Linked DNA regions of Homo sapiens: region 2 is reported to be linked to region 1. The links are microRNA targets in miRTarBase. Many come from high-throughput screens and were not tested one by one. Region 1 holds a microRNA gene; the other region holds the end of a gene's coding sequence.
The links. The annotated mature microRNA hsa-miR-6825-5p reads UGGGGAGGUGUGGAGUCAGCAU and lies in region 1 at 1,902-1,923, shown strand. An mRNA with a match to its seed (bases 2 to 7 or 8) in the 3' UTR can be bound and repressed. Matches are read on the target gene's strand: a 7mer-m8 pairs with bases 2 to 8, a 7mer-A1 pairs with bases 2 to 7 and ends in A, and an 8mer does both.

Region 1 (3,122 bases):
CCACCTCCCTGTGTCCCACCCTGACTTTGCGCCTTCCTCCTTTCCGACCTCAGGAATCAAAGGCTCCTGTAGATATGGGGGTGGGCTTGCTGCCCCTGCCGATGCAGAGGCTCTTGTTCCCTGACTGCCACACCACTCCCTTGCCCACCAGGTGTTTGTGGTGGCGCTGGTGGGCATTGCCCGGGCCGTGGTATCCATGACGGTGAGCACCTCGAACGCTGCAACTGTTGCTGATAAGGTGCGGCTGGGCCCTCTGAGGGAGGCCAGGGAGGCCTGGCCTGGGGTGGGCTGGGGATGCTGGTCCAGGCTGACGCTGTGCCCACTCTGCGTGCAGATCCTGTGGGAGATCACCCGCTTCTTCCTGCTGGCCATCGAGCTGAGTGTGATCATCCTGGGCCTGGCCTTTGGTGTGTGTACCGCTGGGCTCTTGGGCCCTGGCGATGCTCTCCCCTGCCCCTCCCTGGCTGTGGGCTGACTCTGGAGTGGTCACCTGGGCTGGCTCCTGCCTGCTGACCAGCATGTTTCTTCCAGGCCACCTGGAGAGTAAGTCCAGCATCAAGCGGGTGCTGGCCATCACCACAGTGCTGTCCCTGGCCTACTCTGTCACCCAGGTAAGAGGGTGAGTGTGGGCAGGGGACGCTAGGAGTCAGGGCACCAGGCACCCACTGCTTCTGGGTCTGGGTCAGGTTTCCAGTCTTTATCACCTTCAGAGTTCTCAAAACTTTGCACCTGAGAAATCACATGGGGTGCTTGTTACCGAGGCACATTCTGGGGTCCCCTGGAGATTTGGATCCAGTGGGCCAGGGCGCCAGGATGGGAGGCTCAGGACTTGCCGTTTTAATAAGGAGTTCAGGTAGGGATGGTGCAGGTCCGCAGACCCCCCTGAGAAGCATGCATCTAGAGGCCCCTTTCTTAGATTGGGGGCAGGGACTGCACCTTGTCCATCTCTGCCCCCTTCCCCATGTGACTCAGCCCAAGACTGGGCCGGCTCTGGATGCTGCAATCAGTTGGGCAGGACATGGCCAGGGAGCAGACTGGGGCAGGTGAGTTGAGGGTCAGGCCAAGAGGCTGAACTTGGTGTGGTGGAGAGCTTAGGGGGCTTTGCATCAGGGAAAGCCCCTGGGAGAGAGAAGCCTTGAGATCCTCTCCCTTCCTCCCTTCCTGCTTGCCCCTGCAGGGGACCCTGGAGATCCTGTACCCTGATGCCCATCTCTCAGCTGAGGACTTTAATATCTATGGCCATGGGGGCCGCCAGTTCTGGCTGGTCAGCTCCTGCTTCTTCTTCCTGGTGAGGTTCAGGCTGGGGCAGCTGGGGTGGCTGGGGCCTTAGGGCCAGGTAGGGATTGGATTCCTGGGTTTCTGGCTGTGGGTCTGGGCTGGCGCCCCCAGCACCTTCTCAGCCCTGCCTGTCTCTGTAGGTCTACTCTCTGGTGGTCATCCTTCCCAAGACCCCGCTGAAGGAGCGCATCTCCCTGCCTTGTGAGCAGCTGGCCGGCGGCTCTGGGACAGGCGGGGATGGGAGGGAGTCTACCGGGCCACTGTAGAGCTGGTAGCTGGGAGCTGGAGCTGTAGAGTTCCAGGCTGGGAGCTGGAGAGCCCTGGGTGAGAGGGAGGCCTAGAGGGGCCCCGGGGGACACACCAGGCTTGAGGGTAGTAGGTGCTGGAGGCAGAGCCTGGCCTGTCCAGGGTGGGACCTCACGACCCACCCTGTCCGGCCCCCAGCTCGGAGGAGCTTCTACGTGTATGCGGGCATCCTGGCACTGCTCAACCTACTGCAGGGGCTGGGGAGTGTGCTGCTGTGCTTCGACATCATCGAGGGGCTCTGGTGCGTGGGGGCCGCAGGGTGTCTGCCTCGTGGGGGCATGGGAAGTGGGCGGCAGGGTGTCCACCCGCTGGGGGCATGGGGAGGTGTGGAGTCAGCATGGGGCTAGGAGGCCCCGCGCTGACCCGCCTTCTCCGCAGCTGTGTAGATGCCACAACCTTCCTGTACTTCAGCTTCTTCGCTCCGCTCATCTACGTGGCTTTCCTCCGGGGCTTCTTCGGGTGAGTCTGTGGCCGCCGGCGCCCCCGCGTGGCTGCCGGCGGAACTGCGCCTTCTTCCAGCATGGGTGTGAGGATTGAAGCTGAGAGGCTGTGTATGCATACAGTGCGCATGCGCACGCACATACATACATGCACTTGGGCACACACATACAGATACACATGCACATGCACACAGATATACGCACACCCACCCACATGTGCATGGACACGTGCACATGCACACACGGATGCACAAGCATGCACACATGCACATGCACACACAAACACGCACATACGGATACACACGGGCATATGCACACAAACATGCACGTGCACACCCACATGCATGCATACACACATGAACACGTGCTCAACATATACATACATGTAGATATATGCACATATCCACATATACATACATATATATGCACATTGTATGTACAGTACACACAGACATACTCTCCCCACGAGAGAGAGAGTGACTATGCACGGTGTTCTACATTGCTGGTTTTTATTTAATAATATATTAACTCATTCATTCGCAAGCATTCATTGAGCACCTACTGTGTGCCAGACACTGCTAGAGCCAGAAGATGCGAGGCCCACAGCGGATGCAAATCCTGTCCTCACAAAGCTTGTACCCTGTTGGGGGAAGACTTAAGTGGGGAGCAGGTTTGGGGTGGGAAGTCAGTTGGATTCTCTGGGGGTGAGTACACTGCTGTGCACATGTGCATCTGCAGAAGCGTCTGTGAGATGGGATGCTGAAGACATGGGATTGGGGGTCCCACTCCAGACCTTAATGTGGTCGGAATGTGGGTGTTTTGTCCCCCCTTTCTCACCTGCCAGGTCTTGTGGGGAGGGGATCAGCCTCCCACCTGGGTGAAGCTGGGAGAGGGCCAGACTGGTCCATGGCCCCAGCTTGGATCTTTGCACACAATTTCTCCCCTGAGCCTCAGGCTCCTTTTTGTAAATTGGGTGTAGTGTGTCCCCCTTGGAGAGTTGCCCTGAGGGCCGAGGGACGAGGTCAGAGTGGAGTGGGTGGTAACATGAGCAGCAGGGGTCACAGGAGTGGGGGCGGAGGCCACAGCCAATGTCTCCTG
Region 2 (3,075 bases), not on the chromosome of region 1:
GCTGGGATTACAGGCCTGAGCCACCGTGCCCGGCCAGAGAACATTTTTTATAAGGATATTCAGAGGCAATATCCATCAGCTACATTAAAGCAATTTTTTAAAAAAGGTTACATGAGCAGTAACTAAGATCATATTGCTTTTCACTTCCCATTAAGACAATAAACTTAAAACTAGTTCAACTTTGCTTATTTTATTTTTTCATATGCTTCTAATTCCTGGAAGGCTTATGTTATCACTGATTTTATTGTGCCTGACAATATTTCAAGGATATAGGTTACATTTTGCTTTATTATATACACCTAAAGATATAATCACTTTGGGAAACAAACCTAAAAAACTGTTTCATTATAATTTTTAATTTACACATGCATAATATATCAGAAAAATACTGGATACTCTCTTTCAAGAAATTCCAACATACACAACTTGGTGTACATTTACTTAATCCTCTTAGTCATTAATTTAAGATTTACAGACAGGCTTGGTTTCTATACAAGAAACAATCAATGGTATGTAACTACGATAAAGTATTCAGGAGAAATGTGTTTCAGGGAAAGATAATTAACATTTAAGGTTTTTGTCTTTTCTGTTTTTTGTGTAATTTACAAGATCTGAAGGGCTTAACCACAGATGTGAATATAAATAAGGAAAAGTTATCATATGGAAAAATATAATTCTCAAATGCTGATGCCAAAAGTAGTGTTAAAATTTTGTCTTATGAAATTTGAGTCAGGGGAGAAGGGCCAGGGCCAGGGCCCACATATACCCAAATGGTCCAAGCACTAAAAAAAAGTGTGCATTTTCTTTAGATAATTCTACAGCTGGTATTCACTTGCTTGGAAGAAGTACAGTTCTAAGATGATAGCTTCACAAATAACACTGTCATTTATAAGACACAAAAATGTAATAAACCAATCAGACTCTATATAGCATGGCCATATGAATAAAGATAACAAACTGCCTTCTTGAAATGACTACAACTCAATACTAATGAAACTGTCTAGGGTCAATGGTCTTGTAGTTTGAGGTGTTATCTGAGCTCATTGTTTCACAACCAAGAAAATTAAGGAGGCTGGACACAAGGGTGAGGTTGGAGCAAAACTTTTATAAGCAAAAGAAAGAAAGCTCTCCACAGTGGAGAACGGACCCGAGTGAGCTGCTGTTTTTACAGTTGAATCCAAAAGCTTTTATGTGAAACTCCCCTCAACTCTGTAGCTGTTTGTGTAACTTCCCTTATCTATGAAGCTGTGTATGTAACTCTCCTTATCTTTGTATATCTTGGGTAAGCACAAAGTGCAGCTTCTCTTGTTTGTGTAACTGTGGGTCTGTTTTAGGCAAGCCCCTCACCTCCCTGTGCAAGTTCCCACAGAGCCCACCATGTAAATGCCTGAAAATGGGAGGAATTTTTTTCCTGAGAGCCTGCTAATCACACAAAGAACAAAGGCTCTATGCTGGGCCTTGCCTTCTTATCAGTGCAGGTGCAGTTTGGTTTTTCCCCAGGCTGCTCTATTTATGCCTGTAGCTGTGATTTTTTCAGGCTCTTTCTCAGAAGACTAGCCTTAGTGGTCTGCCTAACTGATTTTTCCTTTTCTTCTCCCTCACTATTTCAGCTTATTAAAAGGCAAGCATGTTGGCTTGTTTCTGGGTCTGCTTTGCGGATCTGCAGTTGTATTGTACCTGGCACAGAAGCTACAGCGTATGCTATTTGGGAGAGTGGGGAAGCACTTGCCTAGAAAATCAAGATGGTTGTGTTCCAATTCTGTTTTGGCCCCCAGTTAGTCCCCCTAAGTAAGACATCTTCTCAAGGTCCTTATTTCCTCATTAAAAACAATAAGTGAACTGGACTCGTTCTTTAAGTTCCATTCTAGAACTGTGATTCTAAGGTGACTTGCAGGTTCATCTAACAAGACATAACACTCATAGTCTGTTTATGTTAAGTCACTTTTGAGATATTTATTATTAGAAACCATCCAACATGAAATATGAATTATTAAAATGTTTTTCTCCATGTTTCAAACCAGAAACAGTAATTCAGAATGCAACTAGCATCCTAATTTTTAAAATCAAAATAAGATGACCAGATTAATAAAACTTAGCATTCACAGTATTCAATCTAGAAAAAATATAATTAATAGAATGTTAAAGCCAAAAGAACATTTGAAAGACAGAAAGAGAGAAGGGGAGGAGAGAAAGAGAGAGGGAAAAGAGAAAGCAAGAAAGAGGAGGAGGAGGAGGATTGAGAGATGGAGAGTTTGAGATTGAGACTTCTTATGAAATATATTTTAACGGCAATTACTCATTAACAACTGTGCATTGAGAATATTTGAACATGTTGTTAAAAGCTAGGGGAAAAATGTCAAAACACAGAACCAAAATGATTCTGTATTTCCTAAAGATATACTTTGAGAAACAGAAAAATTATTTCCCATTTCACTATCCCCCAGTACCAAAAGGGAGCATTTTATGATATGCACATCTGTATAATATTTTATAGAAAATAAATGCCAAGGTATTTACAATTTAATTTACTATTTCCTCTTCAATTTGTTTTTTATAGCAGACATATTAATTTCATTTTGAACATGATATGCCAAATATCCTGAGGTTCCAGGAATGAAGTCATGTAGCTCCCCAAGGAATTTCTTCATGGCATCAATTGATATATAACCTACAAAATAAAATTTAAAAAAAGATATATACTTAAAACCCGCTCATACTATTTGCTTTTCAGTGTCTTTGATTTATTAGAGTTAAGACTTCTAAAGAATGTTTTTAGAAAAGAAGTAAAAAGAAGAAATAATACCAGTGAGAAGATTCTCCATGAAACCTTATAATTATCCGGGAACACCTCCTCTTCCCCTCCCACAACTTTCTGCCACCTTTTAAAATATTAAAAGGTGGATTAAAGCTGCTTTGACTATTGAGATTGTGATGTCTAGGTTGGGGCTAGGACATAAAAGAACTTAGATAAAAATAACTGGGAAGTGTTTCTAGCTTAGACGGTAATCACTTAGAACTATCCATCCAACTAGCTACTAACAGTGCAAACAGTTCATCTTCCCTGTTCCAGCAGGC

Region 2: the mRNA of TERB2 is a reported target of hsa-miR-6825-5p. Seed matches in the 3' UTR shown: 7mer-m8 at 2,179-2,185.

The regions. Positions count from the first base shown.
Region 1 is chr3:127,574,106-127,577,227 of GRCh38, reverse strand. MIR6825 (microRNA 6825) reads left to right here and starts at 1,897; the gene lies at 1,897-1,962. It overlaps TPRA1 (transmembrane protein adipocyte associated 1), which reads left to right. Exons shown (of 11, transcript NM_001136053.4): 4 at 152-238; 5 at 335-407; 6 at 532-611; 7 at 1,178-1,288; 8 at 1,419-1,479; 9 at 1,723-1,825; 10 at 1,963-2,043. RefSeq lists enhancers at 1,193-1,771, 1,772-2,351 and a silencer at 1,739-1,918.
Region 2 is chr15:44,978,082-44,981,156 of GRCh38, reverse strand. It overlaps TERB2 (telomere repeat binding bouquet formation protein 2), which reads right to left. Exons shown (of 7, transcript NM_152448.3): 7 at 1,928-2,668. The coding sequence ends at 2,529. Among named protein-coding and RNA genes, the nearest start is that of TERB2, 23 kb to the right of the region's middle. RefSeq lists a silencer at 879-1,079.